Linked DNA regions of Homo sapiens: regions 1 and 3 are each linked to region 2. The links come from fine-mapping of genetic effects on gene expression. Tissue or cell type: whole blood. Region 2 holds a variant in brackets; each other region holds the start of a gene. All regions are shown on one strand. Distances are from middle to middle.

Region 1 (4,109 bases), 56 kb before region 2:
GTGGTGTAGCTGTCCCACACGATCAGCTTCCCATCTTGCGAGGCACTTACCAGCAGCCTGGGGAGAGGGCATCCCATATCATGCAAGCCTCCCCTTCCCGCCTTCCTCACTCCCGCTCTCACCCTCCCATTCTCGGTTCCCCCCCAAGCCTCACTTAGAATCAGTGGCCCAGTGCATGGCGTAAATCTTGGCCAGGTGTCCCCTTAACGTCCGCCGCGTCCGCATCTGGACTCGTCCCACCACCTCTAGGCCAGACACCAGCTGCAGAGAGAGGGGCACTGAATATCAGGGTGAGCAGGTTACGTGCCCAGATGTCTGTCACTGCCACTGATCTATACAAGTTCCCGCTCTGTGCCAGGCTCTAGGTCAGGCCCCCAGCCTTAGAGAAATAAGTCTCTGCCCTGGAGTGTCTTAGACTGATGTGGGAAAGAGATGCATGCATGGCCAGAGGTGTGTTGCTTGTAAGTGTTTAACAAGCACCTCTCCAGTGTTGGTGAGGAAGGTGGGAAGGTGATTTCCACGATACGAATACTTGCACTTTGACCAGTTTCCAGCTGCCAATGTGAGGTCATTGGAAACAGATTTGGGAAGAGATGCACAGAGCTGGCTCTCCCAAGCCGAGAGGAGCCTGCTTGCACCCACCGCTGCAGCACGGCTAGCTTTTTAACTGGGTGCCTGGGGCATCACCATGACCCTGAACTGTACCTCCTGAAATCTGTGGTACTATGCCCCTTGAGCTCTAACCACATTTTAGACTTAGGCTGGGGGTCCAGAGTGAACAGACTTGATTTGCCATCACTTGCATTGCTATCTTTTTTTAAAAAGTTAAAAGCAATTTTTTTTATATTAAGAAGAGATCTCACTATGTTGCCCAGGCTGGTCTCAAACTCCTGAGCTCAAGTGATCCTTTCACGTCAGTCTCCCAAAGGGCTGGGATTACAGGCGTGAACCACTGCGCCCGGCCTGCTTTGTTATCTTGGGCAAGTTGCTTCACCTCCCTGAGTCTGTTTACTCAAGGTGTAAAATGAGGCTTATCATAGCACCTACCTTACAGAGATATCATGAAAATTCAATGAAATCAGGTATTTATGCAGCTTAGCCCAGTATCTGGCTCATAAAAAGTGTTCACTATTAACATATTTAATCCAATCTAAGATGCATCACTAAGAAAGAAAAGATGCTGTCAATTCTAATTGAAACAATGATCCATTGCTGAATGCACCTTGATTTCAGAGATGTCAAAATGTGAAGAAATGTGCATCTTAGAATTGACAAAATACAGCATAGAAAACTAGCAGCTAGAGTCTACAAGGGCTTTATAATTTACAAAGTACTATCGCTTCTTCATCTTCAAGGCCCTGGGAGGGGGCTGTGGTCACTCTTGTTCTACGGATGAGAATAGGAACCGTGTCCGCATCTTTCGCATCCAATATGGTGCCTGGCTCAGAGCAGGTCCCGCTAAAATGTTGGTCGAATGAATTAATTAATGGGTTTCCTCACTCCAAGGACGTGCTGTACTAATGCTCGGAGCAACGCGCTATTGCGGGTCGGGGAGCTCCCTTCCCCTCCCCCCATGCCCTGCCTTCCGGGGGACAGGGGGTCTTACCTCTGCCAGAGTAACGTCAGCACAGGCTTTCCTGGCATCCTGCAGGGAAAGCAGACATCAGGGGAGCAAGGGCGAGGTGGGGGTGGCAGGTGCATGGGCCTTCAGGGCAGGTTGGTCTTGGGGCTCTGGGGCTTGGGGGTCTCAAATATGCGAACCAAGTTTAGAAAGTCCCTGGTCACTTCTAGTCACTCAAGAGCAAACCCAGCCCCCTCCCCCTGGGCCACGCTCCTCATGTCCCCAGCTGTTTTCTGGGGCCCCAGGGGTAGGGCTCTGGAGTTACTGCAATCTGCTTCTTGAGCTGCTCCGCTTCCTGACGCAGTTGCTCCATCTCCCCCATGGCTGACAGGTCGAGGGGTCACTCTGGCTCCTGCCAGGAACATGGGGTCGGTGTTGAGGAACCCCCCACCAGGCTGTGCTTCTGCCCTTCGTGCCCACACCAGACTCCAAGACACAGGGAAACGACTGGGTGGCTGCACCCTCTCCCCAGCTAGGCCCTCCAAGTTTGAGGTCCTTTGCGTCCAGCCCCAGCCTGCCTGAGCCCTGCCTGCGCCCCAGCCCAGGAGAGCAGAGCCCAGGCCAGCTCCCTCTTACTTGGGCTCTGGCTGGACCTCGGCCGGGTTTCCAGCTCCGGTTCCTGGGAGCCTCCTTACTCCCTCAGCTGCGACGCCCGCGCCCGCCCGTCACCTGCCCAGGCTCTGCTGCCAGAGGAGCTGGCCTGGCCTGGCCTGGCCCCGACCGGCGGGGGGTTGGGGGGGCCTGACAGGGAAGGGTAGAGCCAACCACAACGTCAGGCAAATGAAATCAGCTGGCAGGGGTGGGGGGAAGGGGTGGGGGGAGGGAGGGAGGTGTACGGATTCCAGAGAGACTTGGGCCCAGCCGGGAGGAGGGTTGGGGGCAGGAGTGTGGGGCCATAGAGAGGGGCAGCCCCCACCACAAGCCCTGAGAGAGGAGGGGGTGAAGGGGTGCTTCCCTGGTCAGTCTCTGCAGGCAGAGATAAGAGCATCAGGCCCCACAGGATTAGAGCAAAGCTGTGAGGATTAAGGGTTGGGGTTTGGGAGGGGTGCAAAGGAGCAGACAACTACAGCTCCAGTGGCCCCCCTGGTCCCGGCCCCCATCCATGGTGATGATCTTGGCAGTCAGGGCCACTTAGCAACCAGGCCAGGAGGTGGGATATAAGGGTGATAGATGGCCCCATTGTCAGTACCTCAAACTGTGCTCCTCAGCTCAGGGTGGTGGGGAAGAGGGTTTGGTGAGTATGGGAGGGTACAGGCAGGAGCTGAGATTAGAAAGGACTGATCTGGATAATCCTTCTTCTCGACAAACCCCAACCAGCTGCCTCTGGGTCTGATCCTGTTGGGGGAGAAAGGTACAGGGGACCCACAGAGAAGGATGGACAGGTCTGCCCCTATTGTGGGCGGGCAACGGATTTCAAGTGGAGGGAAGGCCCGCACGCTGCTCCCAGGCTGGGGTCTGGCCCCCTCCTTGCCCTCTCGAGGCTGTGAAAGCAGGGGTCAGAGAGAAAGCAGGCGGCCCTAAGTCTCAGCAAAGCTCAGAGAGGGAAGACAGGGCTTACACTTGGAGGCCTAAGGAGCAGCTGCCAGGGGCTTGGGTCATTTGCATGAGGGGAGCAGGTGGCTGAGATTTCCCTGACAAATCACAGGCTCCAGGCGCCCCGCCTCTGGGAGGCCCAAAGACACCTGTCTCCTCCCAGGCCAGCCAGAGCCACCCCCACCTCCAGCCATCACAGAATCTGTGATACACTTGACTGGCCCCTGGCTGAGAGATCTTCACGACCTTTATTGCACAGACTGGGAGAGAGGAGCAGGGTTATACCTCCCAACCCCACCATCCTCTTCATTTAAAGCATCAGCCTCCTCCCCTGCCATTTCTGTTCAGGGAGGCACAGTGTTCCCCATCTGTCCAGGGCTGCAGGTCCGGCAGCGGGGCCCCGTCCCAGCTCCCCAGGCCTGGTGAGCTCCAGGCTAGCCTGTGCACTGTCCTCTGAGTCCAGGCCCTTGTAGGTCCCCAAGATGGTGGGGGTGCAGGGACAGAGAGCTTGCTGTTCTGCTCCTGATGTCACACAGGGGCTTCCTGTGTGTCCTGGCATCAAGATGGCCTTCCACAAGTCAAGTGGCCACATCCTCAAGGAGCTGGCTCAGCCACTCACAGCTCCTCCCGAACCCGAGGTGCCCTTCCAGTCTTGTCTTGGACCCTCTGGTGCCTGCGGCTAGGGGGCTCTGGGGAAGGGTCTTTGCTGGGCATTTCTTCCTCTTCCTCTTCCTCCTCCTCCTGTGACTCCTGCAGCAGTTCTTTGGCTTCTATCCACTCCTGGGGTTGGGGAGGAGAGTGTGGCCCATTCCCTGCACCCACCTTCCCTGGGTCAGCTCAGCCCCTGACCCTCACCGACTGTGAGCCTTCTCGGGGGCTCCTTGCCCACCCTTCACGCACCAGGAGAACCACATCCCTTCCTACCCCGCTCCTTACCTGCTCCCTGTGCTCAGGT
Region 2 (4,249 bases):
ATTAGGTGCAACCTCAGAGTTGCTCCTCAAAGTGGGGAAAATGTATCCTCCTCAGGCCTTCTTCCTTCAGACTAGAAAGCAAACACCCTCCCTATTGTTCACAGCCAGTCTGCTTTTCTCATTTACATTACCTGGCAGGCTCTGGTAGGCATTGATGTTTTGAGCCCTGCTCCATTCATTCATGTACGTAGTTAAGCGTGTACCAGCCCAAGGCACTCTGCTAGGTAGCTGGGGATGTGATGTTGAAGAAGACAGATATGGTCACCACTCCAGCTTATGACATAGACACTAAACAACGAACAACTTCATTACAATTCGACAAGCGCTACAAAGGAAAAAGCACAAGGTGCTGGGAGATCTTATCACAAAAGAACCTTCTTTCAACTGGGAGAATTGTCTATCGGTAAGCACTGGGTTCTGCTACAAGCAAAAGAAAACCCAAAATAATAGAGGCTTCAACAAGATTGAAGTTATTTTTCACATGTAGGAAGTGTGGAGGTGGGTGGTGCAGAAGAGAGGGAGCAGCACGCCGTCCTCCAGGGCCAAGATTGGGGCTGTTTATATTTTGTTGCTCTACCATTCTCCTGCACAGGACTTCCTCCCCAGAGTCTCAGAGGATACTCAGGTTCCTCAGTTGAAATCAGTTTTCCTTGTGATAAGATCTCCCAGTCCCCTGTGCTTCTCCCTTCGTAGCAATTTTCCAGTTGCAATGAAGTTATTTGCTGCTTAGTGTCTAGCTCACAGGCCAGAGCGGTGACCGTGTCTGTCTTAGTTAGCACTATGTTCCCAGCACCCTCACAGATGCCTTGGCCCTGGAAGACCCTTAATGCTTGTTTAATATTTTCCTAATATATTAAATTTTATTGATATTAAATTTATTGCGGTAAAATACACGCAACATAAGATTTTCCATTTTAAGCTTTTTTTTTTTTTTTTTCCAAGACGGAGTCTTACTCTGTCCCCCAGGCTGGAGTGCAGTGGCACAATCTAGGTTCACTGCAACCTCCACCTCCTGGGTTCAAGCGATTCTCCAGCCTCAGCCTCCCGAGTAGCTGGGACTACAGGTGCCCGCCACCACGCCTGGCTAATTTTTGTATTTTTAGTAAAGACGGGGTTTCACCATGTTGGCCAGGCTGGTCTCGAATTCCTGACCTCAAGTGATCTGCTCACCTTGGCCTCCCAAAGTGTTGGGATTACAGGTGTGAGTCACCACACCCGGCCATTTTAGGCATTTTTTAATGTACTGCTCTGTGGGACTGAGTACACTCACATGGTTGTGTAACCATCTAGAAATTTTTCATCTTCCCCAAATGAAACTCTGTACCCATTAAATACTGACTCCTCATTCTAACTCCCTGCAACTCCTGGCTATTGAATAATATTTTTTTTTCTTTTTTCTTTTCTTTTTTTTTTGGAAACAGAGTCTTGCTCTGTCGCCGAGGCTCGAGTGCAGTGGTGTGATCTCGGCTCACTGCAACCTCCGCCTCCCAGGTTCAAGCGAATCTCCTGCCTCAGACTCCCGAGTATCTGGGATTACAGGCGTGCGCCACCAAGCCTGGCTAATTTTTGTATTTTTAGTACAGACAGGGTTTCACCATGTTGGCCAGGCTGGTCTCGAACTCCTGACCTCAAGTGATTCTCCTGCCTCTGCCTCCCAAAGTGCTGGGATTATAGGCGTGAGCCACTGCACCAGGCCAAATAATTTTTGAATGGATAAATAGAGAAGTATGGACAAGAGCAGGAGAGCAGGGCTACAAATGTAAATGCTTACAGGAGCCCCCTAGGTAGTGCAAATGAGAAAGGTACACTGGTGGTGACCAAAAGGGAAGGGTAGGGACTGGGGGAAACCAGAGAGTACTTGCCTCAGCTAGTTAAGGGCAGCCATTCCCTGCATAGCTGTCTGAGTTGACCGTAGAGGCTATACTGGCATGTGAGCCTAGAGTTGCCTGCTCTGCCAAAATTTCTAGAGAAGGTGAAAACCAGACATTTATGTAATACCTCCTGATTTTAATATTGGTAACAAATTTTTTCAACTTGTCGTGACACTGGGTAGAGCAAACAGAGCATTCCAAGGGCTGGCTCTAGCTTTGGGCCCACCGGTTTGCAGATTCCAGACCCGATGGACGGTGTGAGAACTT[G/C]CAGCTCTGTGAGTCTGTGGCCTGGAAGTCAACGGTCCTGAGAACCTGGCTCTCTCTCTGGGGTTTCCAAACAGGAAAAGAAAAAAGGAAGAGAGAGGGTGAGTTTATAGTAAACATTTGGCATTGTTGTGTGCTTTATGTGGTTGTATCTTTTATTTAATCCTCATGAGAGTGATAAGACATAGGTATTATTGTCCAGGCCATACAGATGAGGAAACTGAGGCTTGAAGAGTTTTTTGTTTTCTTAGACAAGGTCTCGTTCTGTCACCCAGGCTGCAGTGCAGTGGCACGGTCACAGCTCACTGCAGCCTCAACCTCCAGGGCTCAATCTATCCTCCCGCCTTAGCCTCTCAAGTAGCTGGAACTACAGGCATGTGCCACTGTACCCAGCTAAATTTTTTTTTCCCCTAGAGATGGGGTTTTGCTATGCTTCCCAGGCTGATCTCAAACTCCTAGGTTCAAGCAATCCACCCACCTCAGCCTCCCAAAGTGCTGGGATTACAGGCATGAGTCACACTGTGCCTAGCCGAAGAGTTTCAGTTGTCAAAGGTCTCAGAGCTAGTAACCACAGCTGGTGGAACCGGGATTTGAATTCACCCGCTTGGACCCCAGTTTCTGGGTGGTCCCCCTCATTGCACTGCCTCTCCTCTGCATTAAGAAGGTCCAGGACCAGGCATGGTGGCTCGTGCCTGTAATCCCAGCACTTTGGGAGGCCGAGGCGGGCGGATTGTGATGTCAGGAGATCCAGACCATCCCGGCTAACACGGTGAAACCCCATCTCTACTAAAAATACAAAAACAAAAACAAAAACAAACAAACCAAAAAAAGAAGGTCCAGGCGGGGCGTGGTGCCGAGTGCCTGTAGTCTCAGCTACTCAGGAGGCTGAAGCAAGAGGATGCCTTGAGCCCAGGAGTTCTGGGCTGTAGTGCACTATGCAGATCAGGTGTCTGCACTGAGTTCAGCTTCAGCGTGGTGACCTCCCGGGAGTGGGGAACCACCAGATTGCCTGAGGAGGGGTGAGCCAGCCCAGGCCGGACACACAATGGGTCACAATTTCCATGCTACCCATGCTAATCAGCAGTGGGATCGGGCCTGTAAATAGCCACTGCGCACCAGCCTGGGCAACATAACGAGAACCCACCTCTAAAAAAAAAATAAAAAATAAAAAAAGAAGAAGAAAGGCCAGGATGACAGCTAAGAGAAGTCTTCTCCCTTAGCAGTGGAGGGAGGTATGAGGCCCACTGCCTCACCTGGAGCTTCTGAGGCTCAGCAGTGCCATGGTCCTCACATCTCTAGAGTGGTTTTCCATTTTCCAAGCACTTTCACATTCATTTGTACATGCCAGACCTTTTTGGTAGGTGTTGCTGTTACTATCCTTACTTTACAGAAGAAGAAATGGAAGTCAAGCTGTCTGCCCCCATCACATGTCTGAAAGCATGGAACAGGGGGAGTTCCAGAGGCTATTTTTGCTGCATGTATCCTGCCTCTCTAGGCTGTAGAACGGGAGGAGGCCAAGCCAGGGGAAGGAGTGATGGGGAAGAGAGAGAAGCCGGTGTCAGAGGCTACAGACAGAGTGCTGGAGACTGGATGATCTGAGAGGCCTAGGGCAGCCAGGGTTGCAGGAAAGTTGAAAGCCCCAGGTGCAACTCTGCGGTGGCCTCCTTACCAGAAGTATCTTTGGCAGCACTGACGCCCTCTGCAAAGGGGGCTGGGGGCAGGGTTTGAGGATGGGGAGCAGGGGAGGGGTCTTTGGGGCTGTTCTCTGGGAAGCAAAGTCTAGGAGCATCGATGCCATCTCTACCCCATCCACATTTCCCCTGGCTCCAGGACCACTTTTTGCCACTCTCAGAGGGTGGTTCTGGGCCTCCCCTACCCCACGGGAAGTTTGAGTAGGCACGTTTCAGAGCTCAGCCCGGGCTCAGACAGCTGACACCTGCAGCCCCTTGGAGAAACTGTCAGCCACAGAGTGGAGCAGATAGAACCGACCCCACCCCAAAGCAATTCCCTTCAAAGGAAGAACCCCACCCTGGGGTGGGCCTGTGCGGGGGACCCTAAGCTCCTTGATCTCCTCCTTTGAAGGAGGGATAGCAGCAGGGGCTCAGGCCTGAACC
Region 3 (4,109 bases), 44 kb before region 2:
CTGCGACCAGGGCGTGTGGCTGTTTCCCCCACACAGCGTTGCCGGCACTGCAGGACCTGAATCCAGTGTCCTGCAGAGGAAACCCATAAGCCATTCAGCTTGTTCATGCCCCTCCCTGGGCACCGACCCACCCCCTCACACACGGGACCCTTACCTGCAATGGCCTCATAGAGGCCCCCCTGGCTCGCAGCCCCATCCTCCTCTTCTTCAGCCCCCTGCTGCTCCTCAGGCCCCTCACAGTCAGCACGGCAGCTCTCCATCTGGGCCAGGCTCCCCTGAAGAGCCTCCTCTAGCCTGGGCAGTGCCAGTCCTGCCTCCTGGCGCCCCAGTAGCTCCAGGCCAGTGTCATAGGCTGCCTGTTGGGGAAGGGAGCAGTCAGTCACCTAAGATCCAGGGGTTGCCAAACTGGGAGGTAGAGAGGAGAGGGGTGTTGGTCTCATTTGGGGCAAGGACTCCATGTCCCTCTTCACCGTGGAGAAGAATAAGGGTGGGCCTCAGAATCATAATGTTAGAACATCAGATTTCAGTGATCATCCAGGAAGGAAACGAAGTCCTAGAGAAGGACTCCCAGCCAGGGTCGCTGAGGATCATTACCCCATCTGTATGCTCAAGCAGCACAACGCACAGTTTAGTGAGGCCTGTGTATCCAGCCAGGAAAAGGCTGGTGGCAAGACAGGGGTGGTGCTGGGATTCTCACCCAGTGTGGGGGCGTCTCCAGGTCCCGGAAGCTCTGGGGCCGAACTCCCGACATTCGTCTGTACTTAGCCATGTCCTCCCGCATCTGCAGGTGCATGGGGTTTGCTACAAAGAAGGTGTGTGCTGCCGCAGCTGCCAGATCCAGCTTCTTCAACTGAGGAGGCGAAGGGAGGAGGGCATCAGAGCCCTGGGACGGGGGGCAGACCTCTGCCCCCTGGCCAGCCTCCCCACCCTACCCCAGACACACACTCTGGGTGCCCCAGAGCCTCATGGAAGACTGGCCAATCAGAACCGCCCACCGCCCGAACTGCAGATCCCCTAGAGGCCAGAACGTTGGGACTCTCAGAAGGCTGGCACCGAGGGAAAGGGGATCTAAAGACGTCGGAGTTGGGTGGGACATGGGTCTCAGGACTTCAGGACCTCAATTTGGGAGACCAGGTGGAAGTGATGGCTTAAGTGAGGTGGGGAAGTGGGGGAGACCTCAGCGACCAGCAAAACCCGCAGGTCTCTAGGACCCTGAGCTGAGGTGAGTACAACCGGCGCCCCGCTTCCCCAGCCACGTAGGCAACTGCTGCGGTACCGGCGGCTGCGGCGTGCTGTCCCCTCCCCGCCCGCAGAGGTCTGGCCTCGGAGGACCCCAACCTTGCCTCCGTCTGCTCCTTCCTTTCCGAAGCTACCTCCTGCCCCAAGCGAAGGTTCACACTCACCACCACCCCCGACACACACACACACCCACGCACACTTCCCGTCCGAGAGCCGGTTTCGCCCCCACCGCCTCCGCTTCATTCCTAGGAAGAGGCGGCCCTGTCCCTCCATCTTCGATCTGCTCCCGTCCCACCTCACGACCTCCCCGCCCCATTCCCATTCTGCTCGCACTCCCCCTCGGCTGCTCCTCTGCGATCTCAAGAGGTCCTCGCGGTCGCTTAGCCAGCTCCTACGCAGAGGCCCGCGGTACGCTCCCCAGCCCCGTGCGGGGCCCGGGCAACAGCATTCCGCCTACTCCTGGGCAACGCAAAGTAGGACAGCGTCGTGGTGAGGGCTGGGACCCTCGGAGCTGCCCGGCCCGCTCCCCACCTGGTAATAGGCCCTCTGCAGGTAGTTGTAGGGCTCCCGACGGCGGAAGGCGTCCCGGAGCGCGCTCCCCACGCGAAGCCGCGCCGCGCCCCCGGGGCCCAGCCTCCGTGCTGCGCACTGGGTCAGGCAGTCTGCGCGGCGGAGCGCTGCACGGAGAAGCTGTCGCTCCCAGGACCCCTGCGTGGGTCCCGGCCCGGAGTCGGGCTCCGGGGCCCCGAGAAGCACGGCGGGGAGCGCGGCGCCCGGATCGGCCGCGCAGCTCGCCCCGCAATCCAGCCGCACCCGGCCCAGCGCCGCCTGGCTCCGCAGCGCCTCCCGCAGCAGCGCCACGGCCGGCGCCCAAGCCCCGGCCGCGTAGGCGCGCAGCCCGTCAGCGTAGAGCAAGTCGGGGGCCTGCGGGGGCGCCCCCGGGGACAGCTGGGTCAGGCCGGGGGGCTCAGGGGACCCCGGGGGAGGCAGCAGCAGCAGTAGCAGCAGCGGCCGGAGGAGCCGGAGCATGATGTCGGAGCCGCCGGCAGCCGAGGGGAAATGCGGGAGCCGAGAGGGAGGGAGAGGAAAGGGGGGAAGGGGAGGGAGGGGGAGGAAGGAGAGATGGAGAGGCGGAGGGAGAGGGAGAAATAATGAGGGAGGCCGAGAGAGAGAGAGAGAGAGAAGATGGGGCTGAGACCCGATGGTGGGAGAGGCCCATGTGAAAAGATGGAGAGAGAAGAGTGCTGAGTGGACAAAGCTGGTCTAGTGTGGAATAAGAGGGAGAAACTGGGAGGAGGAGGGCAAAAGGCGGGAACTGGAGCAGGCCTGGGCATCCATGAAGGATGACTTCAGCCCCAGCGGTGACTTCAGCCCCTGAGGTCTGGGGGTAACTACTGGGGCTGTGTTCCCTCCACACACACGCTTCTGGGTCCAGAAAAAGGAGTGTGGACGCCGATCCCCCCCTCGCCCCCCCCCACCCCCCCACACTCATCCACCCCTGCACTCCCACCCCCCCACACTCATCCACCCCTGCACTCCCACCCCCCCCACACACTCATCCACCCCTGCACTCCCCCACACACACACTCATCCACCCCTGCACTCCCACCCCCGCCCACACACACACTCATCCACCCCTGCACTCCTTTGGAGAAAGAGCTTTAAAATGCAGCAAGGAGGAGGTGTCCAGGCCCGGGACACTGCATCAGCCCCAAAACCTTTCCTGCCCATAAAGTGAGCCCCTGCATGGATTTGAGGTTAGAAGGAGAGTTGGGCACTGGGGCTGGAGCCACGCTCTAAAACCACCTCAACAAATCTGAACAGAGATCCTTCATACCCCAACCAACGAAGATGTGTGTCCTCAAGCCCCGCCCCCAGCAGGATATGCTCCTCCCAGCCTTCCCTGTGCGAGGCTGCCTGGTGGAGCATGTGATCATTTCTCCATGTGTCCTTCTGTGCCTCTGTCTGCTGCCCCTGCTCTGTCGTGTCCCCTGTGAGCCACTCCACCCTCCAAGCCCCTTTCCACCGCAGTACACTGGACACTGAGGTTTCCATGGCAACACTTCAGACTTTAATACATATTGCTAGGGGTGATGGAAGCTGAGTAGGGCATCTGGTCACTTGGATGGGAGAGAGCAGGGCCTTCTGAGCCCCAAATCTAGCGCCCGTCTCCCCAGAGTCTGGAGGCAGCTGCCCTACTCTCGGCCAGAATGAGGTGTTACTCACTCAGGCTTTCTCCTCTGAGTTCAGCAGGCCTGCTTGGGCTCACAGGGTCAGCTGGGGAAAGATGGGGTTGCCTGGGCCCCAGGATCCTCCCCAAGCCCTTGCACTTTCTTCACCCCCCGTCAGGGAGCAGCGTCTCCCTGCGCTTAGTCCCAAAGGAAGTCCAACGGCTCTGCTCTCAGGGGACCCAAGGGAGAGTCGGCGGGGTGAGAGGCCCAGTGGCCGGGGCCGACGAGGAGAGTGCCCTGGTGAGGCAGTCGGAGAAGGCAGAGGTGTCTCATCGATGAAGGTGGTGATCTCCTCCCGGAAGAAGCCAGGACCCCGTGGGGGTCCCCCACCTGACCCCAGAACCCCACTCTCCAAGAATTGGCGAAGGCTGGCCAGCCCCCCACCTTCAGCCTCTTCCTCGTCCTCCTCGTCCTCCAACCTGTGTCTTTGTCCCAGGTACTCAGGAGGACCCCCGAGGGCCCGGCTCTGGGCTGGGAGGACCCGGATGTCATCAGAGGATGACCACTTGTGCAGGAAGGAGCCTGGTTCCCGAGGGGTAGAGAAGATGTTTGTCTCATCATGGGACAGACGCCGGGATAGGGGGACCTGGGAAGAGGAGCGGGTAAGACCTGAAGGTGCTGCAGGGACAGAGGCAGAGG

Evidence for each region. PIP is the estimated chance that this variant, and not a neighbour inherited with it, causes the effect.
Region 1: it holds the start of GNB3, and the variant in region 2 is fine-mapped to the expression of GNB3 in whole blood (INTERVAL, PIP above 0.99). The same link has a PIP of 0.9 or more in neutrophils.
Region 3: it holds the start of P3H3, and the variant in region 2 is fine-mapped to the expression of P3H3 in whole blood (TOPMed, PIP above 0.99). The same link has a PIP of 0.9 or more in neutrophils.

Annotation. Positions count from the first base shown.
Region 1 is chr12:6,839,122-6,843,230 of GRCh38, reverse strand. GNB3 (G protein subunit beta 3) reads right to left here and starts at 2,306. Exons shown (of 10, transcript NM_002075.4): 1 at 2,198-2,306; 2 at 1,887-1,973; 3 at 1,607-1,645; 4 at 155-261; 5 at 1-57. The coding sequence starts at 1,943. It overlaps P3H3 (prolyl 3-hydroxylase 3), which reads right to left. Exons shown (of 15, transcript NM_014262.5): 14 at 4,091-4,109; 15 at 3,384-3,934. The coding sequence ends at 3,770.
Region 2 is chr12:6,782,888-6,787,136 of GRCh38, reverse strand. It overlaps the pseudogene RN7SL380P. Among named protein-coding and RNA genes, the nearest start is that of CD4, 4.5 kb to the left of the region's middle. RefSeq lists a silencer at 60-354. The variant G/C (reference allele first, on the strand shown) is at 2,139.
Region 3 is chr12:6,826,600-6,830,708 of GRCh38, reverse strand. P3H3 (prolyl 3-hydroxylase 3) reads right to left here and starts at 2,302. Exons shown (of 15, transcript NM_014262.5): 1 at 1,771-2,302; 2 at 698-850; 3 at 155-356; 4 at 1-70. The coding sequence starts at 2,268. GPR162 (G protein-coupled receptor 162) reads right to left here. Exons shown (of 5, transcript NM_019858.2): 5 at 3,288-4,056. The coding sequence ends at 3,505. RefSeq lists enhancers at 835-1,370, 1,620-1,679, 1,418-1,919, 3,077-3,645 and a silencer at 1,830-1,939.